Regions from separate parts of the Homo sapiens genome. Here all the other regions are linked to region 3. The links come from fine-mapping of genetic effects on gene expression. A gene starts in region 3. Each other region holds a variant in brackets. All regions are shown on one strand. Distances are between the middles of the regions. Region 1 overlaps LINC02384 (long intergenic non-protein coding RNA 2384). Region 2 has its middle 28 kb from the start of LINC02384. Region 3 holds the start of LINC02384 (long intergenic non-protein coding RNA 2384).

Region 1 (10,883 bases), 15 kb after region 3:
TTGCTCAATAGTTTATCTTTCCCCTTTTTACTCATTTTCATACAATGGGAGTAAGAAGCCTTGTTTGCTTTAAGAGCAGTACCTGATTTCTCAAGTTCCAAATCAGGAATCATGATAGAAAGCCAGGTTCATGAGTTGTGAGGATCCTCGTAGAACTTGCCCAGATTATTTTAAAAGTGCATTGGGCCGGGCACGGTGGCTCACGCTTGTAATCCCAGCACTTTGGGAGACTGAGGCTGGCAGATCACTTGAGGTTAGGAGTTTGAGACCAGCATGGCCAACATTGTGAATCCCTGTCTCTACTAAAAATACAAAAATTAACCAGGTATGGTGGAACACACCTGTAATCTCAGCTACTTGGGAGGTTGAGGCAGGAGAATTGCTTGAATCTGGGAGGTGGAGGTTGCAGTGAGCTGAGATCGTGCCACTGCACTCCAGCCTGGGAGACAGAGTGAGACTTTGTCTCAAAAAAAAAAATAAAAAGTGCATTGGAATGAAACATTTTCAGAAATAGATAGTGGTAATGGCTTACAATATTGAAATTGTATAATTAATGCCACTGAATTGTACACTTAAAAATGGTTAAAATGGTAAGTTTTATGTCATCTATATTTTACCATGATTAAAAAAATACTAAAAGACCAAACCAAAAAAAATAAAAAAAAAAAAACCCAAAAACAAAAAAGCAAATTGGAGACAGGCCTGCTGGCTGTCTGAATAATCCCCTCCGCCCACTAGCAAATGTAGGTTAGCTCAGTAATAATGTGACCCACTTAAGAACTGTATGGGGACTATTGTTGCTAACTGATTCCAGAAGGTGAGTTAGAAAAGCCCATATCTAACCTCCTCACTTTACAGAAGTGAGGTCGGAGACCCTGCAAGTGTGACTTGCTGAAGACTGTGTAGCACCCGAATACTCTGGGAACGAGCTCACCAATGCTGCACAACACCATGCTGACTCACTGAGGCCACTGGAACATTCCAGGCCTTCTGAGCACTGAAATGAGGGCTCTTTTTGTCCATTCTTACTCCAGGTGCCTAATCCTTGTCGCTAAGCATCCAGTTGCTCAGAGTTCTAAAATTGTACAAAGCAGGACCAAGGCATTAGGTTTCAGTCACAGCCAAGCAAGTGTGGACAGTGAGTAATGTCTGAAGATTCCATAGCTTGATCACAGCTACTTTTGTCCTGCTGTCTGAACTCCATTGTCAATTCTCAAACAGGCCACACTCTCATGATAGGGGCCATTCATATGCTGTTCCTTCTACCTTGAATTCCCTTCTCTACTTTGATATTTCCTATTCTTCAGGTTTCAGGTGAAACATAGCTTTGTTTAGAAAGCTTTCCTATCCTCCCAGCCTATGTTAGCTCAGCCTATTGTGTAATTTCTTAGTAACCTATACTTCTTTGTAGTCTTCATCATACTGGTAATTATTTGTATTATGTCTGAGTTCCACACGTGAGGGCAGGATCTTGGTCTGCCCTGTCCGCCACTGTTTCCCAAGAACCTAGCATAGGGTCTGTCTGGCACATTTGTGTTCATTAAAGAAAAAAAATAAATTAACCCTGTCTTCTTATGGAAGAATGAAGATAATGATATAGCCTTACTTGTATTAACAGGCATGTGTGGCTGAAGGAAGTAGGGTAGACACTCCCTTTAATCTGTAGGCATTAGTTGATACTCCAAAGAAATATGCAAATGAGCAGGGTGGAGGGGCTGAGTGCGACTGCTCACATTTGCATTGTATGCATGTGAGAGTAAACAGTAAATCAATAGCAGAGGGGATATAGGTTGGATATAAGGCAATGTTTTCTGGTATGATATTAAAGATTGTTAAAAATGGGTCACATAACAGAGGAAGGTTGTGGAAACACCTTCCCTAGCGGCTTCAGAAAACAGGCCAGAGTTCCATTTTAGCCGGTTATTTTAGGCCTACTCCAGGCAGCAGGGTAGACTAGACATCCTCTTAGGGTCCAATCGTTCCGTTCCTCTGACCCATAATAAATAAAGCTATAGATGCCGTTGTTGCCAATACATACACAAATGCAAAATGCTTCTACACAGTCTTGTGGCTGTAAATGTTGCTAGTTCATCTTCTACTTAGTGTTCTGAATTCACCTTTTGTTTAGAAAATTACCTCAGTCTTTAAGCACGGCAATCTCTTTCTCTAAAGGATTTATTCTATATTTCAAAGCAAGAACTGCAATGCATACTAATTTAACGTTTGTATTGACACTTACCTTAAAATGTGGAGAATACAAGCTAGGAAAAAGGATTTAAAAAATAGCCTGCTAGTCCGACTAAGTTCCAGCATACAAACAGAGTGATCTGGACATGTTGTGTGTCATAATCCCAGTGAGGAGGCTGGGACACATTTTCTTTCTCTGCCTTTAAAGTGAAGGAAGGGAATGGTCTTGAATATGCAAATGAATCTAATTTAATTAACTTTTACGACCACAGCTCCTTTGAGATAATCATGGGAGCCAATTCGATTTCCTTAAAATTCAGCCATTTCCCTAAAGCCTCCATGAGACACCCTTGTCTTTTCCAAGAAAAAAACAAAAACAAAAGCAAAATGTGAAAAGATCTAATCAGAAACAATGAAAAAGAGTAAGTTATCTGCTGCAGTTCTTCTATTTGGTCTCACCAGAAGCTGCTCACACAGTCATTTACTTCAGTTTGTCACTCCTGAGTCTGGCGCTGCCAGCCGCAGAGTGAAATCATTTCAGGTCAGTCATGTAACTGCTGACCCAGAGTTTATCCTAAACTGGGGCTATGAAAGGTAAAGGTAATGATATTTCATGCTTCTGAGCAAAAACTCAAGCCTCGTGAGGCTGAGGGAAGAATTGCCTTGACCTCAGGCCAGAGATGAAGACGAATTTATGCCACTTCTTCCTTTGCCATAATATTCTTTCCTTGTCCTCCCCCTGATTACAAATATAATACATATTTATTGGCCAGGTGCAGTGGCTCATGTCTGTAATCCCAGCATTTTGGGAGGCCAAGGCAGGCAGATTGCCTGAGGCCAGGAGTTCGAGACCAGCCTGACAAACATGGTGAAACCCCATATTTACTAAAAATACAAAAATTGGCTGGATCTGATGGTACGCCTGTAATCCCAGCTACTTGGGAGGCTAGGGCAGGAGAATCACTTGCACCTGGGAAGTGGAGGCTGCAGTGAGCCAAGATCGTGCCACTGCAGTCCAGCCTGGGCAACACAGCAAGACTCTGTCTAAAAAACAAAAAACAAAAAGCACTCCATATTTATTGTGAAAAATAAAAAAGAGAACAGAATGACTAAAAGAAGCTGCTCAGATCTTGGAAGAGTTTGGAAGGCTCTTTCCCAATTTTGATTCCTTCTTTTCCCCTTAATAAGCAGACTTTTAGAGGACTTTGTGGGTGGTGGTTGTGGTGGTAGTGGAAGACGGGGGTGCTAAGTTTGTGAAGTGGGGATGTTACATTCAAGTTCTTTTTCTTTTTTTTTTCCTTAAAAATTTTTTTTTATTGTGGTAAAATACTCATAACATTTACCATTGTAATCATTTTTAAGTGTGCAGTTCTGTGGCATTAATTACATTTACATTGCTGTTACCCATTGCTGTCATCCCCCTCCAGAAATTTTTCATTTTTCCCAACTGAAACTCTGTGCTCATTAACGATAACTGTCCAGCTCTTGGCTACCACTATTCTACTTTCTGTCTCTATGAATTTGACTATTCCAGGTACCTCACATCAGTGGAATCATACAGTATCTTTTTGTGATTTGCTTATTTCAGTTAGCTTAATGTCCTCCAGTTTCATCCATGTTGTAGCATGTATCATGTCAAAATCTCCTTCCTTTTTAAGGGTGAGTAATATTTCATTGTACATATATATCACATTTGCTTTTCCATTCATTTGTCAATTGACACTTGGGCTGCTTCCACCTTTTCGCTGTTGTGAATAGTGCTGCTATGAACACGGGTATACAAATATCTCCTTGAGACCCTGCTTTCAATTATTTTGAGTATACACTCAGAACCTTCCTTTTCTTTTAAACCTATATTCCACACCACTCACCTCTCTTGTTTCTAACACTATGCAATTACATAGCTGCCCATGGTTTCTAAATCCTGGCCCCTGAATCATTGTTCATGGTTGAAAAGTATGTGGTGGTTCCACCCATTATCCGATCCACCTGAAAGTGCCTTGAGACACGTTCGGCAATGTGCAATTGGGTTTCTGGGAGCTATGCTACCTGCTAGTTCTAGAAACATTAAATGTCACATGACTTAAATATTGCAATTAATTTTAGCATGACCAGAGGCAATATTTCTACTTCTTCACATAGGCGAGCTATGTCTAAAACAAATATCTTCTGAAGAGTAGGTCACAGTGCTGTGCATTACATGATTATATAATTGTGCAGGCTACTAATTGGAATGTAGAGTTAAAGTTACTGTAGGAGGTTTTTCAACTGAGTAGATTAAAGAACTCAAAGTTTATATTTCCTTTAGTTAGATTTTTAAAATAATAAAGTACTTAAATTCTAACAAAAGATACACAATTATAAAATAATTAGAAAGAAAAAAGATGATGTGATAAACAGACCACTTCTGTGCTTATAAGACAAAAGGAGAAAGAAAGGTAATAAAAAACAATTAAAACCAAAGTTATTTTCCCACTGATAATTTTATCTGTCTTTCTTTTCAAGTCCTTTAGTCTCAAAATTATTCACTCTTCCATGTCCTAGTCCAGGATGAATATTCTGTGCCTGAATTATTGCAATTTCAACAGCTAAAATCTATTGAACACTTAATTCCATGCCAAACACTGTTAGCCTAAAGCATGTATCAGCTTACTTTAACCCTTGTATCAACATTCTGAAGTCAGTTTTATCACTCGGGGCAACTGAATATCTAATATTCATTCTCCTCTCTTCTTGCTTGCCCACAGAGTGCAATTTTGCTTGGAGTATCAATGTATTCAATTAAATACTCATGTTCCCAGTCTCCATCACTGCTAAGAGGTCCGGTGATCCAGTTCTAGCAAATGGGATGTAAGCAGAAGTCTGCTGGGGGCTTCTGGGAAGCTTTTTTCTTTCCTGATAAAATGAGACACACATAGCTAGATTAAAGCTCTTGACGTGCCCCTGCTTCTTTCTGTTTTAAGTCTATGACCTAAGACAGAAATGTTATGGCTGGAGCTATAGCAGCCACCTTAGAAACACAAGGCAATGAGCCAACTTGCTAAGAAAGGCAGAGTTGAAAGCTAGAGAGAACCTGGAATCCTGGTGGCATTGCTGAGCAGTTGAATCATTCCCAGCAACTGCCTACCTCTCTACCTTCAGTTATAGGGGAAAAATAAACTATTTATTTAAGCTATGAGTAGACGGGTGTTTAGTTACTTGCAGCTGTAAGCCTTCCTAATCCCATGTTTCAGTTAAGGAAATAAAAGCCTAAGTAACTTACTAAAATATATATGATCCTTCAGTGGTGATATGGTGATTTGAACTTATATTATCTGACCTAGAGTCTAAGCTTAGTCTCTTAGACATGGTTCTATGTCACATCCCCCTTGTGCTATATTGCAAGGTCTACTTATGAGTTTTTCAGGAAATAAACTTGATCTTGAGCCTCCCTCTTACTTCTTCTTCTCACAGATGCCAGTGTGATACATCTAAAGCCAGATCTGACCTTCTCACTTTCTTGCTTAAAACCATCAACAATATTTCTTTCTGTAGAGCTGGGATGTAACCTCAACTGTCTTGAGAGCCAGGTAGATAAAATAATTGATAGAGGCAAGTAGATCATAAGAAAATCAATTTTGTTGGTGTATTAGTTAGCTACTGCTGCGTAACAAATTGCCCCCAAAACTTAGCAGCTTAAAACAATAAATGCTCATTTCTTATATGGTTTCTGAGGGTCAGGAATCTGGGAGCAGCTTAACTGAATGGTTCTGGCTCAGGTCTTTCATGAGTTTGCAGTCAAGATGTTGATGGGGGCTTCAATCATTTGACTACTAGAATGGAGCTGGAAGTTCTGCTTCAAAAAGACTCACTCCCATGGTGATTGCTGGAAGCTTCAGTTTGTCACCATGTGGGCCTCTCCTCACAACATGTCAGCTGTTTTCTTCCAGAGCCAAGTAATCTAAGAAAGGCAGAATGACAGCTAGCCTGGGAAATGGAATAACATCACTTCTGTCACATTCCATTGGCCAAACATATCAAACTTGATACAGCATGAGAGGGGACTATACAAGAATGTGGATACCAGGAAATGAGGATCAG[T/C]GGGGACCAGCTTGGAGGCTGACAACAACAGGTAGATATTGGACAAAAGGGTAATATTTGCTATTTAGTTTCAGCCAATTGTTCCACTACGTGGAATACAGGTCTTATGTTACTGGATTTTCCCATTTCTCAAATAAAGTTAGATATATGAGTTTCTGAGTTATATCCCATGGTAGTAAATGCTGACTCAGAATTGTAAAAAATCCTGTGTAGGTCAAATAAAATACAAATGCAGTTCAGATATGGCCTGTGAGTTGCCATTTTGCAACCTCTGTGGCCCATAGCTTGGAAAACATATGTAGGTCCAATTCCAATCTGTGATACTGCCTGAAGTGATATTTTCAGTAGGATTTTGAAGACAAGTCCAGGCCTAGCCAGGAATGTACCATGGTAATTTAATAATATCTTCCATGGATAAAGGAGGGGAGAGTGATGACATATGTGCCTCAGATTGACAGAGACGGCTATATAATTCATTACCCAAACTAGGATACTTTTGAGAGTAAAGGGAGGTGCTATATTAATTATGCTGACATAGTGACCATAAATTAGGACTGACTCAGGCAAACCAGGATGTGTGGTCACCACCTGCACTGCCCTTAGTGAAACCTTCCCACTTCTGAACCCCGCTGCCCACACTCCTGCTGTTCCCCCGCTCATCCTATCTTCTCTTCCCCACTCATCTGTTTCCTCCTGGACTTCAACTTCTTCAAGTTCCAGTGGAAGTATCACTTTTTTTCCTGTTGTCTTCACCTCCTCCCCTCCTTTTCAGGTGAATCACTCTTTTACCAGAGTTTTGTAGTATTTTATACATATCTTTAATGCAGCATTTCTGACAGCAACCTATGCACAGGGGCCAGTGGTTACTCATTTAGGATTCTCAGTACCTATCTCAGCATCTGGCTTAAAGTAGGTGCTTGATGATAATTTATTGGAATTTTATTTTGAATCTCACCTCCCCTCTTTTTCTCTAATACCCTCTGCAGGAGATGATAATGAATAGTGAAAAATGCCAAGCAGACAATAAGCAGAAGGAACAGAGGAAATCCACAAACTGGATAATTGTTTCTTGAGTAACTGACCATCAATCTAGATAGTGGTTGCAGTAATTTCAAATTCTTCTCTTCCTTTTCACTTCAGGTGAATGAAACCTGTTTTCACCGAGAATGAGCTTCTGTCTTGATAGTAAGAATCGCTACTATCGCCCATAACGTATAGACTAAATTCTCAGTGTATGTATGTGTTTTATAAAAGCTATCCTCTAGGAAGTTCATAACTAAGCAGTGAAAATCAATCTCAGGCATACACAGGACACGTAGGAAGATTTATTCTCTCATGTACGCATCTAACATTTAGTAATACTTGTGCATTGTCTATAAACCTCAGGGGGGAAAATAGAAACTGCTGGATAGCAATGCTCTCTATAAATGCCCATGAGTGAAATTAAACTGGAAGATGTTAAAGGGAAAGCTCCGTGGGACTGAGGTGTGTTTTTGTTAGAGATGGGTAGAGTGAATGGTAGGACGCCATTATAATCCAACAAATTATTATTAATTGCAATCCTAATGTCAGAGAGGTGGGGTGGAGCAAAGGATAACCACGTGCTACCTTTTCTTTGGTAGGCTTTCATTTGGTCTCTTTTCGAATCAGAAGACCCAGAAAACTTGGATCCACTTCTGGCTCTCATCCCTCTGGGCAGTGTGATTTGGAGTAAGTCATAACTTTTCTCTGTGCTATCTTCCTGTTTAGGAAGGGGCTACTAGTAGCACCAATTTCACAAGGTTATATGAATAAGGTATGTGAAAAGACTTTGTAGATTGGGGTGAAGTCTACAAATGGTAGTTAGGACTATTCTCAGGCTGATGTTCAGGCAGCGTGTTGGAGAGAGAGTGGGAGGGAGGAACAGAATGGAGAACCATACTTAAGCCGCCCCCAGGCCTCCTCTGAAACCCTCCCATGAAAGCAGGTTAATAATACTACCCAATAAAGCAGGAACACTTAGAAATTAGTCTTGAACAAGATTAAGTTTGCCAAGGAGGGCTGGTCCTGACATCACATGCTTTAAACCTGTGGTTGGCAGCCAATTGGTTGCTCTATTATTACCTGCTCTGGAGAGGGTGAGTCTACAGTGGAATGCTCTTTCCTTGGTTCAAGCTGTTTCTGCTGAGTCCCATAGAGTTGATTATAGTTCTTATACTCTGTAACTGGCTGTTTCATTCTTGACTCACCTCCAGACTCATAAATATCCCACAGAAAACACAGAGGCTTTAAAAGTTGCCTATCTTTTAACCTTGTGCTGTAATATGTTTTGTAGAATTGCCAAGACATACAGTATTTTTCCTGCCTTTCCAATACCTATTCAGGAGCAAAAACCATGATAAACTCCCTTTGCATCTTTTGTAAGAGAGCTAGACAAACGCCGGAGAGTTTCTCTGCAGTTGTGTGACCTTGGGTAGTTTCTTCAACTACAGAAAGAGAGGTAATAATAACTAATGTGGAGGCTGTTGTGAGCATGAGGAATAATTTAAGGAAGAGCACCTGGTACATGGCAAATGTCCCATAAACATAATTGCTGTTGTTATTAATAATAACGTGAAAAGCATTCAGAACAAAACATTTGAAATGAGTCCCGGAAAGATTAATTTATACTTAATAGTCAAGAGACTATCTCTCAATATTTTCTATGTGCTGATTTAGAAGAAAGTCCCTGCTCTAGCTGGAGAGACAAATGTCACACACAGAAATTTGAATAATGCAATAGATGGAGGACATTTCAATATATTAAAAAACTATTAAAGAAGATAACCCAAGATGGACCGAGTGTACCTACAACGATTTTGTTGTTGTTTTTTTGTTTTTCAGTTGAGCAGATGCTCCGGCTGCCACTCCATCATATATTGGAAACAGCATTACTTTATAGTAAATCATGACCACGGTGTATGGCAATGAAGTTGCATCTGAAGCAGCCGGCACCCTATGTGCTAGCTGGCTTTTAGACCAGGAGACTGTGAATCTGTGGTCAGGATCTCTTTAGGGCTGCTAAATATATACTACCCACTATCACTCGCTGGAGCTGCAGACCCTAGTTTTAGAGTTTCACTTCTTAAAGACCTTCATCCTTATTAAAATGGTAATATCCTTACTGTCATCAATCACTGACACATTGGTATGAGTGAGTTTGAGTCTGGTTTGAAGAGTAGGTTTACTGGAGGAGGAGGCTCACAGGGAAGCTGGGAGGGAACCCACAGCTACTCTGCAGAGAAGGAGAGAGGGAGGTGAGGTGTGGAGGCAAGGGGAAGAGAGGGTGGCTATACTAACAGTCTCCTGGCTAGAGAGGAGGATTGGACCATTTTGCATTCTTTTTTTTTTTTTGAGACAGAGTTTCACTCTGTCGACCAGGTTGAAGTGCAGTGGCACAATCTTGGCTCACTGCAACTTACATCTCCCCTGTGCAAGTGATTCTAGAGCCTCAGCCTCCTGAGTAGCTGGGATTATAGGTGTGTGCCACCATGCCTGACTAATTTTTGTGTTTTTAGTAGAGACGGGGTCTTGCCATATTGCCCAGGCTGGTTTTGAACTCCTGGCCTTAAGTGATCCACCCACTTCAGCCTCCCAAAGTGCTGGGATTACAGGTGTGAGCCACTGAGCCTGGGCTATTTTGCATTCTTAAAGTAGCTTTATCGTTCATGCCTCTTCTCCTCTATGCTAGCACTGGTTATACTTACAAAGATGGAGCATGATTTTCTTCCTTATTCTTCTCTTTGTTCTAGGAACCAGAAAGAACAGGTGTTAATCTTATTAGCAAGGAAAGGAGGCCTCAGCAATAGCGAGAAACCGAACTTATTTGTGAGGCCTTGCATTTTGATGTGAATTGTTTCCAGGGATTTAAAAATATTCAGTAAAACACAAAAAAAGTAATGAAAATTTTTTAATAGCCTGAGGTGAGTATAGTGTAGTTCTTCTGGTGGGAAAATTATATAACGTTAAATCATCCTTCTTCATGAAGATATATGTATTCATATATGAAACTGAGGTTTCATAGGTTGTTGTGAATGGTTCAAAGAGCTATGGATAGGCCGGGCACAGTGGCTCATGCCTGTAATCCCAGCACTTTGGGAGGCTGAGTTGGGGGGGATCACCTGAGGTCAGGAGTTTGTGACCAGCCTGGCTAATGTGACGAAACCCTGTCTCTACTAAAAATACAAAAATTAGCCGGGCATGGTGGTACACACATCTGTAATCCCAGCTACTCGAGAAGCTGAGGTAGGAGAATCACTTGAACCAGGGAGGCGGAGGTTGCAGTGAGCTGAGATCACCCCAGTGCACTCCAGTGTGTGCGACAGAGTGAGGCCTCATCTCAAACACAACACAACAAAACAAAACAAAACAAAACAAAACAAAACAAAACAAAAAAGAGCTATGGATAGAGTGATGGGAAAACTGAAAGTAGATTTACTGTTAATTTTTGTTAATCACCATCTATAATTATTTTATATATTTGTGTACTTATTTATTGTCAGAGTTTCCCCCTAGAATGGAACCCAGTGAGAGCAAGGACCATTTCTCTGTTCTCCACCATGTCTCCCACCACCTAACACAGCGGTTGGCATACATTT
Region 2 (10,939 bases), 27 kb after region 3:
GTTAGTCACCCTATCCCTCCTTGTGTTGTTGGGAGACCTTATCAGGACTTCTTGAAACCAGAGCATACAATTGATTTGAGTCCAGCTTTAAGTTAAAGAATAATAAATCTCTACCATGGCAAAGAAACTAAAGTCAATAAGTAGTAAAAGTACACTATGGAATTGCCGTGTGCAGAGTTCTTTGAAGTACTACTCTTTGGAACCAGCCTGGGATTCAGACATTTGTGCCTTGCTGCTTTTTGATCCAAGGAATGCAGGGTCAAGTTATCAGAAACATTTGAAGTTGTTTAGAGAATTGTGAAGAATTTCACTAGGCTAAACAAATTATACATCTTGGGATTGATTGCAAAGAGGCTTAGGATGATAGTGTCTGCATCAAAGATGCAGTGATGCCTTTGATAGAATGAATCACTGCTACTAAACCATCTTAAATGAGAACCAGCTTTTCCCTCCAAACCAATCGGATTGATCTGTGCATTGAAATATGTTCCTGTCACGATCCTTTTACTGCATTGGAGACAAGAATGCTGCAAAAAGAAGTGCCAGAAGCCATGCTTGCTGGGATTGAGAATATCTTATTTACGGTCTGAGCGCATTATGGTTTGACCACTCCTCTATCGTACATGCTAATTCCTTGAACATTACTAAAGGATCCTCTGAACTTCTCAGTCTGCTTTTCCAATCCTTTTTTTTTTGTTATTGTGTTCTGTGTTCTCTTATGTGATGGTCAGTGGGGTGTGGCCACAAGAGGCCACACATCAGAGGCTCAGGAAAACAAAGTTTATTATCCCCAGAGGGTCTGGAAACAGGAGGCATCTTTACTGGGGTTTTCATGGGGAAGACAGGGCAGAGGAAACTGGAATTGGCTAGTTTGAATAATTCCTGTAAGCTTTGGGCTATAGGAGTAGTCTTTAGTTTCCTGGTATGCAGCCTGGGATGATTAAGGCAGAGGAATATTGCCTCCTGGTAGAGGAGGTATGGCTCTGGACTGGTTAGTTTTCATAACAAAGGCATTCTCCATGAGCCCTCTGCTATCTCTAAGAACTGGCTAACCCAAAAGGGGCAGTCTCTCCTGAGCTAGATTTTTAAGATGTTAAAACATCATAACAGGCCAGGCACGGTGGCTCATACCTGTAATCCCAGCTTTTTGGGAGGCGAAGGCGGGCGGATCCCATGAGGTCAGGAGTTCCAGACCAGCCTGGTCAGCACGGTAAAACCCCATCTCTACTAAAAATACAAAAATTAGCTGGGTGTGGTGCCGAGTGCCTGTAATCCTAGTTACCTGGGAGGCTGAGGCAGGAGAATCGCTTGAACCCAGGAGGCAGAGGTTGCAGTGAGCCTAGATTGTGCCACTGCACCCCAGCCTGGGTGACAGAGCAATACTCTGTCTCAAATAAATAAATAAATAAATAAAACATCATAACATATAGAAAAACATTACAAACAATACAAATTGACATTTCATTGATTCCCAGAGAGTGAAGGCAGCATGGCATAGCAGAAAGAGGGAGGTCTGAAGTGAAATCGTATGGGTTTAAATCTTGGCTTTGCCTGATATGAACTGTAAAGTGTAGGCAAGTCTGTTGACTTCTTTAGGTCTCAGTTTATCATCTGCAAAATAGGCTTAACAATTCTTGTCATGATTGCTGGGAGGACTAGATAGGATGATATATGTGAAAGTTCTTAGTAGGTACAGAAATTATACTAAAAAAGACAAACAAATCCACATGCTATGATGCAGTGTGGACTATCTTTGGTCACCTACATGTCAAAGGTGGTCTTAAACTGCTCTGGTTTGGTAAATGTTGGAGTAGACTAGAAGTCAGAGAGTACGGAATCCACCCTTATTTGCTCTCAGGCTTTGGTTTACAATGAGCTCAAGTGTAGGGATTGTGTCAAATGATTCCTGGAATCCTTTACAATTTGTAAAATTCTATGAATTCGTGAAGTCTGCAAAATGTGAATCCGAGGTGTATGTATTGTAGAGCAACTATTAGACCATTTATCACATTATACATATATATATAAAATTATTATTTTTTTGAGACGGAGTCTCGCTCTTTCGCCCAGGCTGGAGTGCAATGGTGTGATCTCCGCTCACTGCAACCTCCACCTCCTGGCTTCAAGCCATTCTCCTGCCTTAGCCTCCCGAGTAGCTGGGATTACAGGCGCCTGCCACCATGCTGGGCTAATTTTTGTATTTTTAATAAAGATGGGGTTTCACCATGTTGGTCAGGCTGGTCTTGAACTCCTGACCTCAAGCAATCCACCCACCTCGGCCTCCCAAAGTGCTGGGATTACAGGCGTGAGCTACCATGCTCGGCCCTATCACATTATATTTTACAGAAGCCATCATCCCATACCTTTGAGTCCAGCCCCAGAAAGAGCAGTCCCTTGCATACCATCCAGCATGACCTTGGGCATCCTTTCCCCACTCCCCACCATAGCTGTTTCGGCTAGAGTTGGAAACCTGTCCACGGTAGGCCCCTTGGAGTCTCCTGCTGGACACTTGGGATTAGAATGGAGACAGTCAAGTTAACAGACAGTAATGCTGGACCTGGACGGTCACTAGCACGTGTTGGAAGCTGAGGGCACCAGCCAGTGTAAGCCACTGTGGATGGTGTAATAGGAGAGCAAAGGAAGGCAATCTGGGAATGGGTTGGATGGGGAGGGAGAAAAGGTGGGGGAAAGAGAGAAATGTAAAATGAGGGAAGCAGAGGAAGAGATAACATGGCAATGAAGAAAGTAACATCTTTGGTCATTTTCTGTTCCAATCACCCACAGCAGGCCTGTCAGTTCTCTCTTACCTTCTGTTCTCTTTTACCTAAGTAGATTTTAGTGGCTTTTCTATTCTTGATCTCCAACCATGCCCTAAGACATATGGTAACACAGACTGAGGATTCTCTGACGGCAGGGCTTTGTCTCATTCCTTTTTGGAACAAGCACAAAGTAGATGCTCAATGAATTTATATTAAAATGACATGAAAATCATATGTTTGTATCTGAAGTGTCACTGATGGCATTTATATGAAAAAGGTTAATTAAAATAGATAATTATGTTTCAACAGGCATTTCCCTGGATCTTCTCATTTGGTCTACAAGTATTTTTTCTTTTCTTTTCTTTTCTTTTTTTTAGAGATAGGGTCTTGTTCTGTCATACAGGCTGGAATGCAGTGGCATGATCATAGCTCAGGCTGGAATGCAGTGACGTGATCATAGCTCACTGCTGCCTCAACCTTCTGGGCTCAAGTGATCCTCCCACTTCAGCCTCTCCAGTAGCTGGGACTACAGGCTTGTGCCACTATACCCAGCTAATTTTTCAAAATTTTTTTTGTAGAGATGGCGGGGGTGTCTCTCTATGTTGCCCAGGCTGATCTTGAACTCTTGACCTCAAGGGATTCTCCCGCCTCAGCCTCCCAAAGTGCTGGATTTACGAATGTGAGCCACCACATCTGGCACACAAGTATTTTTGAGTACTGTCTTCACTGTGTTTTCGGGAGCCACACAGGATCTAGCTCACTGTAGGGTTTATTTTAAAATGTCTGTTGAACGGAATGGCTCAGGATTGTTTTACATACTGTAGAGATATAAAAAGAAACATAATTTATGGTTGCTCTACATAAGCAGTATCCAGTATAGTTGGGAAGACACATGGAAAAAAAAATCAAACATAGTGATTTGAAGTGGATTTCAAATAGCTGGAAGAATGGAGGTTCAGTGAGGTCTCATGTATTTAGAGAAGTTTTGTGGAAAATCAGGAAGTTGAATTACACCTTGAGAGCTGGGTGGGATTTGGCATGGTAGAGATAGGTAGAAGACATGGTAGAGATGGTAGAGACAGGAAGAAGACAAAATGCTTAGCAAAAGCTTGGGGGGCAGTAATGAGAGTTTTGCTGTAAACACAACTTAGAATTTAATGATTCACATGAAGAAACCTGATACACCGTGTCCAAGTACGGGAGGCAATGGAGTGCCATGGTTAAGGGTGTTGACGATGGAGGTAGACTTTCTGGATTCAAATCTCAGCTCCTCCTTCCCCCCCCGCCCCCGCAACTGCCTTTGTGATGTTGGGCAATTTACTTTTCTGTGCCTTAGTTTCCTCATCTGTAAAGTTGGGGATAATAATAGTACCCACTTCATAGGGATGTTGTACAATTGGAGGGGATGCTGTTGGTAAAGTTCTTAGATTAGTGTCTGGAACTTAGTAAGCATTTAATCAATGTTAACCGTTAATTGTTTTTGTAATGGAACTCTGGTTCTATGACCCAATTAAAAGAACTATCCAGTTAATTTTGAATTGGGTATAGAATAGCAGATCTCTTGGTCATTAGGTAAGCCAGTTACTATCTGAATTGGTGCTGGACTACTGGTAGGAACTGGTTTATGGTCAGAAGAACATTGAGTGTGTAGAACTCAGTGGAAGGCTTTGAGAGCCAGGGAGAGGAATTTGGACTTGGGGACGATGGGCAAGGCACAGTCATATTTCCTGAGCAGGGGAATGATGTGATGAAGGTGAGAACAGGAGAGCGGGGGCAGCGGGCAGTCCCGTGAGCACCAGTGAGGGAGTGGGGGTGCTAGTGCAATAATTCAGGGGTAAGGTGATGAAGGCCAGGGACAGGACTGTGGCTGTGAGAGGGAAATGCAGTGGGAAACTGGAGAGACTTCAAAGGGAAGGTGTCCACTTCTCACCTCCTCTACTGCTGCCACCCTGGTCCAGGCGACTGTCACTTCTTGTGTGGATTACTGCAATGTTCCCCTAACCCTTCTGCCTCTGGCCTTGCCCGGAGGTCTAATCTCTTCACAGGTACCGCTTTGCAGTCTGGCAGCTTTCCTATTGCACTCCGAGGACAAGCTGAACGCCTCGCTCGGATCTACGAGGCCTGTGTGGGAATCCCGCTTCCACTGGCTTCATTCCCTACTAGGCATCCACCCCACTCCACGAGGCTGCCATCCCTGACTTCCTCCAACACATCAGGCCTTCCTCAGGGAACTTGCCTATGCCTGTTCTTCTTCTTCTTTTTTTATACGGAGTCTCGCTGTCTCCAGGCTGGAGTGCAGTGGTGTGATCTCGGCTCACTGCAAGCTCCGCCTCCTGGGTTCACGCCATTCTCCTGCCTCAGCCTCCCGAGTAGCTGGGACTACAGGCACCTGCCACCACGCCCAGCTAATTTTTTGTATTTTTAGTAGAGACGGGGTTTCACCGTGTTAGCCAGGATGGTCTCGATCTCCTGACCTCATGATCCGCCCGCCTCGGCCTCCCAAGCCTGTTCTTCTTAAATATCTGCCTAGGCTAAGTGTGGCGGCTCACGCCTGTAATCGCAGCACTTTGGGAGGCCCAAGTGGGTGGATCACTTGAGGCCAGGAATTCGAGACCAGCCTGGCAAACATGGCGAAACCCTGTCTCTATTAAGGATACAAAAATTAATCAGGTGTGGTGGTGCATGCCTGTAGCTCCAGCTACTCGGGAGGCTGAGGCACGAAAATTGTTTGAACCCAGGAGGCAGAGGTTTCAATGGGCAGAGACCGTGCCACTGCACTCCAGCCTGGGTGTCAGAGCGAGACTCTGTCTCAAATAAATAAATAAATAAATAAATAAATATCTGCCTAGATAATTCCTTTACCTCTTTTCTCCTTTAAGTGTCTGCTTGAATGTCATCTTATTAGTGACCCTTAGCCACCGTTTTAAAGTAGCAGCCCTTCTCCACCTGGGCACTCCCTGTTCCCCTTACCCTGTCTGGTTTTCTCTTTGTAGCCCTTATCACTACTTGACCTAGGAGCTCTTTATTTGTTTATTGTCAGATTTCTGCACTGGGATGTGAGTTCTATGAGGACAGATGTGTTTGACTGTCTTGCTTACGGATGTATCCCCAGGAACTAGA[A/G]CAGTGCCTGGCATACAGTAGGTGCTCAATAAATGTGTTGAATAAATACATAAATAAGAAGTCAGATTTGTTTTGTTAGGCACAATGCCCAGTGGCCCTTCAGAAGCTGCCTTATTTATGCTTCCAGTGACGCTGTTCAAGGAATGTATTGTTCTCATTGTTTTACAAATGACAGCACTGAGGCAGAGACCAGAGGTGAACAGGGGCACAGAGCTGGTAAGTGATGCAGTCAGGAGTTATGTCCAGTTCCTTTGACCTTGGTGTCGCCATTCTGCATGGCTAAGATGAGATGGGGAGGGAGGCGTCAACAGGATGCCGGGGCTTCCAGGTTCTGGAAGATGGAAGAGCGTCAGAAGCACTGACAGAAATGCAAATGCTGGGAAGAAGGCCAGAGCTTCAGAAAAAGAAGTAGCTGAGGGAGGAAATGTTGGATCAAGTAAATATTCAGGAAGAAAATCCTGCTTTTAAGGAGAATGACTAAATAATATATTGTCCAAGACCCCTGTGAGAGTGAAAGTGCGCACTATTTTTTTTTTTTTTTTTTTTGAGACAAGGTCTTGCTTTGTCACCCAGGCTGGAGTGCAGTGGCACAATCTCGGCTCACTGCAACTTCCACCTCCCAGGTTCAAGCGATTTTCTTGCCTCAGCCTCTCAAGTAGATGGGATCACAGGTGTGCGCAATCACACCTGGCTATTTTTTGTATTTTTAGTAGAGATGGGGTTTCACCATGTTGGTCAGGCTGGTCTCGAACTCCTGACTTCAGGTGATCCACCTGCCTCGGCCTCCCAAAGTACTGGGATTACAGGCATGAGCCACCGTGCCCGGCTGCACTATTAATAATAAGGTACAACAACAGGCATACATGGAGGTTGTCCCAGCAAAGGGGGATAAGCGGTCCCTTTGGATTCAAGTGATTGGAACATCCATGAAAGTCATGTCTAGAGATTTGGGTATCTCCCTTCTAGAGATACACAGGGAAGACACAAGGTTAGGGTTCTTATCATCAGGGAGAAGGGGGAAGGGAACATGAAGACCAGCTTTGAGACCCTACCTGAGATAAGTGGGAGGAGAAGAAAGAGCCTATGGAAGACAGAACCAGAAGGGAGAAGAGGTACAGAGGTCAGGAGGAGAGGGGACAGGAAGGAGGGGGAGCGGGGAAGGCCACATTTTTCACGCAATTTAAAAGTAGGTCAGTGGGAAGCTGGTAACAAAAACAAGACTAGAGAATCACTTGTTTTTTGATTTTGTAACAAAATCTTCATCTGTTTCAACACAGTGCTAAAAGGCATTTAATTAAAGCAGCTTTGAATTCATTTTGACTTGAGAACTGTTTTTCTGCGGCTCCTATATAAACCTTGAGACTCTTTGGGATGCTTTCTTTTTTTTTTTTTGAGACAGAGTCCTTGCTCAGTCACCTCGGCTGGAGTGCAGTGGCACGATCTCGACTCACTGCAACCTCCACTTCCTGGGTTCAAGCAATTCTCCTGCCTCAGCCTCCCAAGTAGCTGGGACTACAGGTGTGCGCTACCATGCCTGGCTAATTTTTGTATTTTTAGTAGAGAGAGGGTTTTGCTATGTTGACCACGCTGGTCTAGAACTCCTGGCCTCAAGTAATCCACCCACCTCAGCCTCCCAAAGTGCTGGGATTACAGGTGTGAGCCACCACTTCCGGCCTGGGGTGCTTTTAAAGGCTGGATCAGGAATCGGGTTTTGGTGTCCCAGCCTGAAGTTTAAAAAAGTTTTTTTTTAAATTTTTTTAATTTTAAGGAATGTTATTTGTTTCTGGACAATTTATTTATTTATTTATTTTTTACTTTAAGTTCTGGGATACATGTGCAGAGTGTGCAGGTTTGTTACATAGGTATATATGTGCCATGGTGGTTTGCTGCACCTATTAACCCATCATCTAGGTTTTAAGCCCCTCATGCATTAGGTATTTGTCCTAATGCCTTCACTTCCCTTGCCCACCACCTCCTGACAGGCCCTGGTGTGTGATGTTCCCCTCGCTGTGTCCAGGTGTTCTCACTGTTCAACTCCCACTTATGAGCAAGAACATGCCGTGTTTGGTTTTCTGTTCCTGTGTTAGTTTGCTGAGAGTGATCAGCCTGAAGTTTTTTCCTGTACCTTTGCTTGGCCCAAGGCAATAAGAGGTCCTGCATTCAGAGTGGCATTGACACAGATCAAATCTGGGCCCCAGGTAGAAGATATAGAAGCAAAGGGGATACTTCTGTGATTTCTGTGGGGTCAGAAAGGTTAAAAATTGAGTTTCTGAGCCAGCATGAGTAATAGTGTCTAAAATCTGGTTTTCCATGGTAAAGTAGAAATTTTACATTTCATGAACAATTCAAGCAGATATTTTCCTACCTTGGCTTCTTCCTTCAATAGAGGGAGGGAGATGGGGCGGGGGAAGCAAGCAAGCCAACAGAACCCTAGTTCAAAACATAATTGAAATGATAGCATAAACAACAATGCTGGTGTCTACAAGTAACGTGGTTTACCAGCTCTGGTGGTCTGTCTCATAATTGGGAAAGAGAGAGAGCTAGGTTGCTGAGCACAACATTTTTGTCTATCCAGACATGATTAGTCCACTTGGCTCTAGCCAGAAGGTGCCTTTTCCAGGTAGTGACGATGTGCGCTTAGCACATGGCTTAGTGTTCTCAGTTTATTAGAGAGTAAAGTCTCAGGACTGAGGCCATGGAAACAGAATCACTCTCTCGCATTCTCTGAATGGGAGTATGAGTAATTGTGTCGGGTAGCAGCAACCGGCAGAGGACAAGCAGCAGGCCTTCCCTGCAGTTTCTTTTTTATCACAGCAGAAGTCTTACTGGGCAGAAATCACTGTGGCACACAACGCCTGGGCACCAAAGGGAATAAAATCTCACAGGAATTCAAAGAGAACAAAGTCATTAACACTGAGCCAAAGCCTGCTGGCGTACATCGCAGAAATCAAATGGATATAGAGGGCTCCTGAGAGGAGAAAATGCATAACTCTAGGCTACCCTGCACAAGATGCTAATATCAGTACCTAAATAGTGGTTTTCACGGAAGCAGTTTTTCTGTAGCTGGTGTTCCTGCCACATTGGAGGAAAGTGTGTCAAGGCTGACCTTGAGCAGAATGAGAAAGTAGGAGTTTGTTTTGGCACACCACACCGCTCTGTCTTTCTCAACTCCACCCTAAAGACTGAGCCTTCTTCAACAGTCCCATGCAAGGTTTTGTACTCAAAATGAGAATTTATTGGCAGTATATGGTACGGCACCAACTATGCTCAATATGCTCCTCCTTTCTCTTTTGATCACCTCCCTCCTTCCTCCTCTCCTCTTGTCCCATCTGTTTTATTTCCGTGGCTTTTCTTTTCCCTTTTCCCTTCTTTTTGACCATTCTTCTTTTCTTTTCCAGAAATATGAAACAGGGAGAGAGAGAAAGGATGGGAGGGGGTGCGTAGAGTGGGGCTGGGGGAGACAGAGAGGGGAGTCAGGGAGGGAGGGTTATCTGTTACCTGTAGATTTTAAATCTGTAATGTTTGTTGGGGTTTCTTTGTTTTGTTGGTGTTTATTTTCGCCTCATAGGGTTGTTGGGAGGATTAAATGTGGAGTGTTTAGCTCAGTGCCTGGCATGCAATAAGATCTCAGTAAACACTATTTATTAGTAATGAAAAGTTTACCCTTGGAATAAACATCTTCAGATCTAGGCCATCTATTTGGGGAATGGGGGATTTCTTCTCTCCTCTTAAAAAGTTCCTTTTTCTCAAGTTCTTGTTTTATTTTTATCTATTATTATTATGATTTTTAGAGGCAGGGTCTCACTCTGTTGCCTAGGCTGGAATGTGATGGCGTGATCAAAGCTCACCACACCTTCAAACTCCTGGGCACAAGCAACCCTCCTGTCTCAGCCTCTCCAGTAGCTGGGACTATGGATGCATGCCACCATGCCCAGCTAATTAAAAAAATTTTTTTTTTTTTTTTAGAAATGGGGTCTTGCTGTGTTGGCCAGGCTGGTCTTGAACTCCTGGCCTCAAGCAACCCATCAGCCTCGGCCTCCCAAAGTGCTAGGATTACAGGTGCAAGCCACTGCACCTGGCTGCTTTTTCTGAAATTCTTTTAGGATAATTACATGTATACATGCACATAGTTATATGCACATGAATGTACATACACACACACAGACATTTTCTTTCTCTGTTTTACAGAGGGAGCTCAATGCAGAAAATAAAGCCAAGGCTTCAACTTTGGTCGAGTAAAGTAGCTTTCAAAAAATTTTAACCTCCACAACTGCCACTTATACGTACCTCTATATAAAACAACACACAAATTTTCAATAAACAATATTTATCTTCACTGCTGGCACTATTGTGTTCAGGTCTGTTCCATTCTCTTTCATTTAAAAAAAATGCTGGCCAGGTGTGGTGGCTCACGCCTGTAATCCCAGCACTTTGGGAGGCTGAGGCGGGTGGATCACAAGGTCAGGAGTTCAAGACCAGCCTGAGCAACGTGGTGAAACTCCCTCTCTACTAAAAATACAAAAAATACAAAAGTGCAGTGGTGTGATCTCAGCTCACTGATCACTCATCTTCGCCTCCCCAGTTCAAGCAATTCTCCTGCCTTAGCCTCCTGAGTAGCTGGGATTACAGGCATGTGCCACCACGCCCGGCTAATTTTATATTTTTAGTAGAGACGGGGTTTCTCCATGTTGGTCAGGCTGGTCTCGAACTCCTGACCTCAGGTGATCCACCTTCCTCAGCCTTGCAAAGTGCTGGGATTAGAGGCATGAGCTTTATAAATTTTAACTCATTTAGTACACATAACCACTCTAACCACTCTAGATAGTAGACTATACTATAATTACTCCAGGGGAAGAATTGCCTGTTCTTTGTTTCCAATATCTAGCCAGAATCCAGAAGACTTGCATATTATAGAAGCTGGGCTAAATACTTAAGTAGAAATGAGAATAATATTATGGAACAAGCAATTGCTTTCATAAGTCCTGATGGGCAAACAATAGCCAAAGATGGTGACCACAAACCTCGAATCAGCAAACCTGAGACTTGGCATATTGCTGTAG
Region 3 (10,939 bases):
TAACAAAATACGTAAATACAACAACAAAAGGTAAAGTGGATTATGAGTAAAAGAATAACTGTAGGAAGTAATCTAACCTAGGGGGTCAGAGGAGGTAGCCAGTAGGTATAGTCTTGCTTAGTGTAAAACAAACAAAACTCCCACAAAAGCAAAAGCATGGCTTTGGTTTGATAAACAGCATAATTCAGATATCAAATATTCCTAGTTAAGTGTGTGGTTCTAGGCCTTTAAAAGACTGAATCATGCGGCAGGTGGTGGTTATTTTCACCATGAAGTTGGTAGAACAAATCAAAGTTGACAGGATATCAAAAATCCTGATTGGCTGCAGTTACTGAGTGACTGCTGGGAGAAACGTGGTTTTAAGAAAGGCTGAGATTGGTATGTAGGCAAAGAGCTGGGAGAGAACTCCAGGTCTAGGAGATAGTTTGGAAGGAGTAAAAAGCAAACAAGAGGTAAACAGAATGATGTGATGGGTGGAAAAGCACAGGAGCCCGTGGGGAAGACTGGGCTTTAAGGGCACAGACAATGAAACCAGCTAGAAGGCAGGAAGTGCACCCTGGGGTGGCCCTCCGGTACAGGAACCTGACCTGGACAGGAAGTGAAGGGTATCATCTGAGGAGCAGGAAGGGGAGATGTGAGGGAAATAAGTGTCCATTGCATAAACCTTGCTAGAGCTTTTATCCTGTTACAGGGTTGTAGGCAGCTTGGAGCTTCTCTAACAAAATAATCTGGCCTGCTGGGAGGTATTTGTGAGGGACAAGAAGGGAGACAAGAAAGGTTAGAGTGTGGGCAATTACCATGGGGCTCTGTCTTGTCTTGGCTCCCTTTTGGATGACATAAGATCTTTGTCTTGGATCCAAACAGGATGAAAATAAGTCTCATTTCCTCCCCTCTCCCAACCCCCTTCCTCCCATGATGAAATGAACTATATGGGACTCTTGGTTGACATAAATCTTTGTGCTTTAATAAAAACTAAAGGTTCAGGAGTGGGAAGTGGTTAAGAAGTTGTTTGCTGGGGATTATATCAATAATTCATCCTGTTTAGACTGAAGAATGACAATGATAAAGAAGTTAAAACAAAAAACCAACAAACAAACCCACTAGGGTAAATGGGGCAGGGGAAACTGAGAAGTGAAAATGAAGACAGAATTGAACATATGTGAATATAAACTTTTTTTTTTAACCAGCTGTAAACAAAGTGGTATGAGGAAAGATGGGAAGAGATATAAAAATAAACAGCATTAAGTTAAAGGGGGTAATTATAGGAGCCAAAATGAGAGGTGAGTGTCGCAAAGGATCCAGCTAACTTTAGAGACTTGAGAAGTTTCTTCAAACATTTCCTTTCAGGACACTGTGGGGCTTTCAATCTTTCAGGATTTAACAAGACCCTAAATGTATATGCCTTAAATTCACACAAACACACACTTTTTTTGTTTGTTTGTTTTTTCCTGTTGGGGGAGAAGAGAGAGTAGGAGATGTATTCTTTGTTGTCATTTGGAAAACAGTTTCCGGTACATTTTATTTGCTTTTAAAAGCCCTGGAGAATAGTCAGCAAATAGAAATTGGTTTGCAGAAATAACATGGCTTCCTGGAACTTAGGGGGAAGGAAATGGGTGGTTTCTTTAATTACTATAGTATTTGTTTAGTATAGTGTGTCTTACAACTAAAGATAGAATTCCGGCTAATGTCCAGGAGGGAAGGTGAATTTGGATATTAATGAATTCGGAAGCTTCATACAGTTGTGTTGAATTTACCAGGTTAAGTAAGACAATAATGCTCTTTGTTTTCCCTATCCTGGCCAGATTAGAGTGGACTGAAGTTTGTTTTCAGATATCTAATCAGTTTAAATTCAAGTGCATTATTATTTACATATGAAGAGCTAATGACTTTAATGTAAGCAAGTAAGCTTATTTACAACAAAGAAGTGACTGGGTGACAAGAGGAGTGTCGATATTGCCTTAATTAGTTGATTTGCCAATTATTCTTTTCTGCTGGGTGTGATAGTACTTTTCCTAATGAGCAGCAGAAACAAGAATGCTCCAGCAAAAGCGATTGTAACACAGTAGTAGCAATAGCTTCTTGGCCATTTTAGGTCCATTAGTGCTGAAGTTGTCGACTTTATACAATTTTTCAGACTTCATAAGATTGAAGAACCAAGTATATTCCTGTAGGTTTATCCTATTTATTTATCAGCTATGTGACTTAGCTCAAGTCTGAGAAGCTTAAAAGGCATTTACTGAAAGTGAAAATAAATTAGATGGCAGGTTTGAACTTAAAGAAGAATTAAAAATATGTCCCACAGCAGTGCCATGCATTTATTTCTTCAGGCTTCTTAAAGACATTGATTGGTAATAGATGCATCCGCGCTCATTGGTGTGGGAAGCCCTGGGGGAATGGCTAGAAGACTCCTTCATTTTCTTTTGTGTAGGTTTGCATTTCTTCTGTATTTGAAAGTCGTGATACTGAAGAAATTCAAAAATCCCCAGGAGATTCCATGTCCACATAACAAATGTAAACTTATCTTTACTTTAATGTGTTCACTTCTCATAACTCCTTGACTGGAACCCTTCACTTCATCCAGTCTGAGAGTCTGTAAGTTTCTGCCGCAGGCATGCACATTCCTGACACCACGCTTTTGCTTGGCTGTGCCTCCTGCCCAGAATGCTGTCTATTCTCTTACGCACATCCTCTCTGTATCCCATTTTTGTCCTATTTCTTCCTGATTCAGAGAGGGTGGTGATTGGTGGATATGGCTAACATTTATTAAGTATATCTCATGCTTTACATACTGTGGTGGCAATTTATGTGCATTGTTTAATGATACCCCCGTTTTACAGGTAGGGAAAGAGAGGCTTACAGAATGTCACTGGGCTCACACTAGTAAGTGGCACAAAGCCAGAATATAAATCTAGGTCTTTCTGGTCATTTCTGGACTTAATCTTATAGTGTCTTGAATTGTTTCTTAGCTATTGCATCTACTAAGGCCTTATTTCTCTAACCAGATTGTCAGTGGCTAGAGGCAAGGAGCTTACTTATCTTTTAGTCTGCATAGAGCAGGCCCTCAATAGTGATAGCCTTCTATTGAAGTGAAAAATAACATGTAAAACGTTAAAGGATTTTTATTATTTGGTTAAACACTGGAAGAAAGAAACAAATCACAGGAAACTAATTTCTCAAAATTACTGCATGAACACAAGACACTGTGGTTCTTAGTGTGATCAGCACCACTCACATGGGTGTCTGGAAATGTGGGGGCAGTCCTTAGGTTGTCAGGATTCTGAAGGTATCATGCAGTTATAGTGTGTGGTAGACAGGGACGTCAAACACCTTGCAGAAAGTAGGACCGTTCTGCACCCTGCAGGGGCCCAATAAGGGAAGCAGCACCTGGAAAACATGGACCCAGATGCCAGATTGAGTTCCAACTTGCCTCCACCTTTTACTAACTGAGTAAATCTTTCTCATGTTAACTATGTGCCCTCTCCACTCCTGGCACATGGTTAGTGCCCAAAAGCATCAGCTCATAATTACTATCCTCTAGAAAAGTGTCCCCCATGGCAAGACATGATCTTTGCGGAGTGAGAGAACTTACTAGACTAACAGTAACAGTGTAAAAATCAAGGTGTAATGAACATACAGAGTGGAATAATAGATATTGGAAACTCCAAAAGATAAGAGGGTGGGGTGGGAGTGGGGATGAGGGATGAGAAATTACCTGTTGGGTGCAATGTACAGTATTTGGGTGATGGGTACACAAAGAGCCCAGACTTCACCACTACACAATATATCCATGTAACAAAACTGTACTTGTATTCCCTAAGTCTAAAAAAAGAAACCAAAACTAAAAAAAAAAAAAAAAAAAAGAGAATCAAGGTGTGTCCCAAAACAGTGCTTCTCAAACCTTAATGTGCTTACACATCTCCTAGAAATCTTGTTAAAATGCAGATTCTGATTCGAGGGGGGGCTAGGATGGGACCAGAGTGTCTGCATTTCTGATAAGCTCATGATCCCAGAGCTGCTGTTGGGTACCAAAGTTCTAAAGTACCTTGAGGGAGAAGCCAACTTAATAAGTGAAATAATGAAGCATTTATTACATATCTACTATATAACTTAAATGACAAAAATAGAGTAATGGAGGTTGGATATAAGGAGTATAGAATTTGATTTCTTCACAGAAGGAGCTTCCATCTGCTTTGCCACTTTTATCTGAGAGACAAAGAGAGAGAGCACACAGATTTTCCATAGATAACTATATTTTTCAAGGGAAAAAGGCAGAGAGGTATTTCTTATGTGTGTTTCCTCACACAAAAAGGCCATTTTGGGTCCCCAAATAATTTTAGAGGAGGTATTATAACTAAATAAAGGAAAAACTTGGCAGCCATTCTTGGATGCAGGGTGTAAGCCTTGCATATCTCAGAACTAGTACGAATGGTGTGCATTTGGGTGTTTCTCTGTGTGTGCAGTTTTACATGTCTGTGTATGAGCTGGAAAGTGTATTGGGCCATTGCCAGGGAATTGATTTCTTAAACATCACTAGAGAAGAGGGATATTTTCCCTGATAAAGATTAAAGCGTTAAGTTAAGGGGCAGGAATTCCTAAGGCAGCCTTGACTAGGAACTTTGCATATTACAGGCAGTCGATGTTATTTGAACGTATTCATTGAGAGAAGAGACTACTCATTATCCACTTAAAATACTTCCTGGCTGCAGCATGGTGTTGTACGGAAGCCAAAGCAATTGGCTTTGCATTTGGCCAGCTGATTTAGCAAGAAATTTCGCAAATGATGCAGTCCTTACAGATGGTGCTGTTGGGTTTTTTAGAATGTTTTAAAACACTGATGGATTTGACCATGAACTGAATTTCCAGTCTCTTAGATTCACCTCCAGCCACCCCTTGACGATCTCCAAGGCAACTGGAGACAAGGAGCAGACCTTTTCTGCAAACTTATGATGAATGATTTCCTTTAAAAACTACTCGCATAATAAAAATGTTTTGGTGTAAACTTGGCCAAGGGGAACTCTTGAAACTTTCAGTTTCTTTGCCTAACTCTGAGTTGCTTGAGTCACATTTTTGCATGGTTCTTGATTGACTTTCTGGTGCTCTGCCTGGAGGTCTTTGCTTATCTGTGAGTTGCCTGAGTCACATTTTTACATGGTTCTGGTGCTCTGCCTGCAGGTCAAGAAGGAGCCAGTATCTCCAGGAGGAGTGAGAGAGTGCTCTGCCAGTGTGAAGTGTGAATCCTTGAGAGGCTGTGGCAAGGGTCCATGCCTGAATGTGTAGAACAAGAACAGCTGGAGGCTGTGGCTTTCTCCAGGAAGAGGTTTCTAAATCTGCCTCTTAGAAGATATCAGAAAGTTAAAGGTACTGTACCATCTTCACAGGCCGAATTCTTACTCAGATCTTTACAACAGGGACTGGTCCTGATCTTTGCTGTTGATTGCTTTCTTGTTTTCTTGGTTTCTATTTGAATCGTCACCTTTTATTCGTCTTCCTTGGTGCCTTTTGGTTGTGCTTATTTCGGCTTTATGTAAGCAGCATCTCTGGATGCATAAATGAGGCAGATAAAATTCCCCAGGGTGACTGATCTGCCCTTCATCTATTTTGAGCACTGCAGAGAAGTTACCATGGCCCACAGCATAACTCAATCACTGTAAGCCAGTGAGCACATTCTGAGTTTTTTTTTTTTTAAATAACCTTTCCTGGAGGCATTTGGCATAAGCTAAGCTTAAAGGCACATGATTCAATCATTGATTATTCAAGACATGTCATACTTAGGCTTTTCTAATAACCATATTGTCACTGTCAACTAGATATTGAGCTCTGGTTTCTAATTTTGCACTGGAAGCTGTACAAAGTCTATTGTGTTCTGTGTGTGTGTGTGTGTGGCTCTGGCAATGCAGAAATGGCAACAAGGAAGTATCTAGCACCCATGAAAAGACTGAAGAACACCAATTTGCTTTCTCTCAGTCAAGCCATCTTTCTTAAGACAACCCTTGTCCTGTAGCTTGAACTGTTTAATCCTTGTATATCTTCCATCCCTTCCACCCTTAGGGAACCTCCATAAGGTGAGGACAATGTGTCTTTTTTACCACCTGCTATTGTCTAAATGTTAGTGTCCCCCTCAAATTCATATGTTGGAACTAATACCCAATGTGATAGTATGAAGAGGTGAGTCCTTTTGGGAAGTGATTAAGTCATGGATCAGTGCCTGTGTTAGTCAGGGTTCTCTAGAGGGACAGAACTAATAGGATATATATATATAAAACAAACTCATATATATATATATATATATATATATATATATATATGAGTTTGTTAAGGATATGTAATAGGATATATATATATATATAAAAAACACATTCATATATATATATAAAACACATTCATATATATATATATAAAACACATTCATATATATATATATATATATATATATATATATATATATATGAGTTTGTTAAGTAGTATTAACTTATACGATCATGAGGTCCCATACCAGGCTGTCTGCAAGCTGAGGAACGAGGAAGCCAGTCCAAGTGCCAAAGCTGAAGAACTTGGAATTCAATGTTCAAAGGCAGGAAACATCCAGCAGTGGAGAAAGATTTAGGCTGGGAGGCTAGGTCAGTCTAGCCTTTTCACATTTTTCTGCCTGCTTTATATTCTGGCCACACTGGCAGCTGATTAGATGGTGCCCACCCAGATTAAGGGTGGGTCTACCTTTCCCAGCCCACTGACTCAAATGTTAATCTCCTTTGGCAACACCCTCACAGACACACCCAGGATTAATCCTTTGCATCCTTCAATCCAATCAAATTGACACTCAGTATTAACCATCACAGTGCCCTCTTAAAAGAGGTGCCTTGCCCTTACTGCCATTTGGTAATATAACAAGAAGGCACCAGTTTTGAAGCATAGAGCAAGTCCAGACACCAAGTCTGCTGTTACCTTGATCCTAGACTTTCCACTCTCCAGAACTGTAAGCAATACATTTCTGTTATTTATAAATTACCCATTTAAGGTATTTTGTTATAGTAGCCTGAACAGACTAAGATATCACCATACCTCTGTAGTTTAGCACAGGGCTTAAGCTTAAGGCAGCATTTATTCATTGGTTCATTGATTTATCAGTTCATTTAACAAGCGTTTATTGGTAAACACCAACATTCCAGCTTGTCTTGGAATGAAGTTTCCCCATCTTTGATAGGAATACATGCTTATCACTTCCATGTTTGCTCTGAGAGCTCCCCTATACCTCCTCTACTTCTTGGAAGCATGCTCCTCTAAGGTTGTTAGCTCTGCCCTCCTATCCAGATTTGTTCTTTTCCTTTGCATCTGCAGAATCAGCACTATTTCTATAACAAAGTGGTTCCCCTTACTTCTGAATATCACTGGTTTCTTTTATTAATTTCTTTCATTCAAGGTTAAAGAGGTAGTTATATGATGTGACCTGTGATGGTTTCGTGGTGTGTCTGCTTTGGCTTGGATAAATCACATCCCCCAGAGCTCCTTTTCTAGTATGTTTCTGACTAGGGTGGTCTACAAGGGAGAGTCTCTTGCAAAAATTGGAAGATGGAAGTGAGGCAGCAGCTATTTTGTAGCACGCACGTACCTTCTCCTAATTATTGAAACACTAATCTAGGTGCTGCTGTGAAGGGATTTTGCAGCTGTAAAGTCCCTAATCAGTTGACTTTAAATTAGTCAAAAGAGATATTATTCTATGTGACTTAATCAGTTAAAAGCTTTTTAAAAGAGAGTCTAGACCAGGGGTGTCTAAGGGAGAGAGTACAGTCATGGGTTCTTAGTTTCTGTTTCTCATTGGGCCAGAAAAGCCCCTTCCTCATCCCTCTTTTCTGCTTATTACTAGAGACGGAAACTAAAAACTATGGCTTCAGGTTGCTAAAAGCCTAAAACAAAAACAAACAGAACAACAACTACAAAATAAAGTGGTTTGGATAAGCTTGATCTATACTCTCCCTGAGGTCGGAGATTCCAAGTAGTAGAGCAGAAGGAAAGTTGTAGAACTTTTCTACGTTTTGGGACAAAAACACTCATGTTGTTGCTGATCTGCTGATTTGCCTTGTTGGTGTGAAGCAGCAGCTAGTTTATAATTCCTTTACTTTTCAGATGTATCTACTTCCAATTTCACTGACTCTTGGGTTAAGTGTATGTGTACAGCTCCATGACAAAGAGCCCTGACTTCTGCATGACATCCTCATCACTGAGCTCATCCTTGTGGTAGTCTAGCCTGCTTATGGCTTTCCCTTTCTGATTACCTGCCTTGTGGATGTCAGGCCTGCTTAGCCAGCTCCTACAGTTGTGTAAGATAATTCTTTGTAAAAAATAAATGGATATATTAAAAAACAAAAACAAACAAACAAAAATTTTCTGCTGGTTCTGTTTTTCATGTCAAACCCTGACTGATACATAAACTGAAGAAGCAATTGTTGCCTTATATATCATTCAGTTGGACGGTTTGGAACCCAGATGTCCACCAGCATTCATTCAATTATTCATAACTGTACCATAGTTGACAATATAGCAATAAACAAAGCAGATATGGACCCTGCCCTTGGAGAGTAGATTCTAGCAGGAAACAGATGTTATTTAATATTTATAGGATAATACATTAGCATAGAGTTGTCAGAAGGTGTAACTAGGAGACCCTGCCTGAACTTAGGTGTCAGAGAAGAGAAGTAAGGGCCTGGAAGAAAGAGTGAGGGCCTGACAACAAATGAAAGTAATTCAGGAGGTTCTGCAAAGTTGTCGTTCATGGCAGTAGAAGGGATGAGGCTTGGGAGATAAACTGTAGAGGGCTATGCAAGCCAAGATAAGGATGTCTGACTTTACCCTAAGGGACAAATACTTTTATTTAAAAACCTTCATGTTTTGGAATCCTATATAGTTATTTTATAATGTCACAATGTGGTTATATTTTGAACCTTTGAAGATCCCATGGTGTTAGTGTGTTTGATCAGCCATTCCTGCCCCTGTCCTCTTATTTTTTTGCACATTTTTTACAATCCTCTTGTGTAACCCATGATGCCCTTTCTATTGTGCAAGCATCAGTTGGCTACTGTCATACTAGTCATAGTATTTTTAACTCGTTCTCCTGCCTTATGCTTTGAATTCTCACCCATTGAAAGGAAAAGAAAACAAAACCTGCACTTTTCAAATTAATTTACCTGACAGTTTCCTCTTGTCAACGTTTACTTTCTGCTCTATTTAGATGTACAGAAAAGCTTCCGGAGGGTGGGCATTCCCCAGCCTCATTATTCCTGTTCTTCTGACACCACCTGCGGTGTGGGAGCTTAGCCCTTCCTGAGGCTGTTAACCCTTTCTTACTGCTGAGCCCCCTGATGCTCTAAGGATTTTCTTAATGAAGTAATTGATTTACTTACTGAAGTAAACGCCATCCTTGAAAACTAGAGCAGTAAATACCATCAATTCTATGGACTAGAGAGAGGAAACACTGAAATGGTGCTAGAAGGTGCATGACAAAACCAGTCACAAATCTGAATGAGGTTGAACAGTGTGAACCTAGGGTCAGTATTTTTTTTTTTTTTTTTTTTTTTTTTTTAGACAGGGTCTTACTGGGCAGGAGTGCAGTGGTGCAATCCTAGCTCACTGCGTGTAGCCTTTAAGTCCTGGGCTCAAGCACTCCTCCCGCATAGCTGGAATTACAGACAAGGGCCACTGGGCCTGGCCAGTTTTTGCTTTTTTTTTTTTTTTTTTTTTTTCTCTTTCATTATTTTCAGGTTTCCCTGTAGCTGTCTTTGGGAAAGCAGTGAAGTATAGAGGTTAAGCCAAATTGTAAATTGTAAAGCCAAACTGATTTGGGTTGGGAGTCAAGTTCTACTATAGCCTATTTCTATACTTGTAACATGGGAGTAATATTACTACATGTAATAGGTAAAAAACGTGACATGTGCAAAGTAACTAGCTTAGTGCTAGGCACATAGACGGGGCTCAGTCAATTTGGCATATTAAGCATTATGATCTTTATTTTTCATCTCCAAATATTTATTCTGAAAACTGGAACATGCTGATAAGGTAAGCATGTGACACTGGAAATGCAAAATGAAAATTTACATTCTCTAAGCCACAAAGAGCTACATTCACACAGCACTGGGGGAGGTGGGCAGGAAGAGGATAACCTACTCCCAGCCAAGGGAGGCTTCTGACAACCTTCTCCTAGCAGCAAGGACTCATGTGTGAGGATCTCAGCACCTGAGCACTCACCAGTCCTAAAATCCTGGAGTCTTAGACCCCCAAATCTTAGAATCATCTCTTAACAAAATTTTATTTTTAAATTGACACATAATTGCACATATTTATAAGGTACATAGTGACGTTTTGATACATACAATGTTGAGTGATCAGATCAGGGTAATTAGCACATCCATCATCTCAAACATTTATTATTTCTTTGTGTTGGAAACAGTCAATATCCTCTCTTCTTGCTGTTTGAAAAAACATAATATTGTTAACTATAGTCATCCTACAGTGTCACAGAACACTAGAATTTATTCTTCCTATCTACCTGTAATTTTGTATTCTTTAACAAATCTTTCTCTATCCCCCTGTTCTGACTATTCTTCCCAGCCTCTGGTAACCTCTGTTCCACTTTTTACTTCTCTGAGATCATCATTTTTTAGCTTCCACACTTAAGTAAGAACACGTGGTGTTTCTGTCTGTTCCTGGCTTATTTCACTTAACAGAATGTCTGCCAGTTTCATCCATGTTGCCATGAAAGACAGGATTTCATTATTTGTAATGGGGGGATAGTATTTCATCTCATGTATATACCATATTTTCTTTATCCATTCATCTGTTGTTAAACATTTTGGTTGATTCCTTATCTTGGCTATTGTAAATAGTGGTGCAATAAACATAGGAGTGCTGATATCTCTGTGATATATTCATTTCTTTTCCTTTGGATAAA

Evidence for each region.
Region 1: its variant is fine-mapped to the expression of LINC02384 in whole blood (TOPMed, PIP above 0.99). The same link has a PIP of 0.9 or more in blood mononuclear cells.
Region 2: its variant is fine-mapped to the expression of LINC02384 in whole blood (INTERVAL, PIP above 0.99).

What each region holds. Positions count from the first base shown.
Region 1 is chr12:68,430,378-68,441,260 of GRCh38, reverse strand. It overlaps LINC02384 (long intergenic non-protein coding RNA 2384), which reads left to right. Exons shown (of 4, transcript NR_120458.1): 3 at 7,890-7,977; 4 at 9,130-9,419. Among named protein-coding and RNA genes, the nearest start is that of LINC02384, 16 kb to the left of the region's middle. The variant T/C (reference allele first, on the strand shown) is at 6,268.
Region 2 is chr12:68,418,461-68,429,399 of GRCh38, reverse strand. No RefSeq gene overlaps it. Among named protein-coding and RNA genes, the nearest start is that of LINC02384, 28 kb to the left of the region's middle. The variant A/G (reference allele first, on the strand shown) is at 5,880.
Region 3 is chr12:68,445,786-68,456,724 of GRCh38, reverse strand. It overlaps LINC02384 (long intergenic non-protein coding RNA 2384), which reads left to right and starts at 5,241. Exons shown (of 4, transcript NR_120458.1): 1 at 5,241-5,358. RefSeq lists enhancers at 4,853-4,992, 5,053-5,382 and a silencer at 9,162-9,456.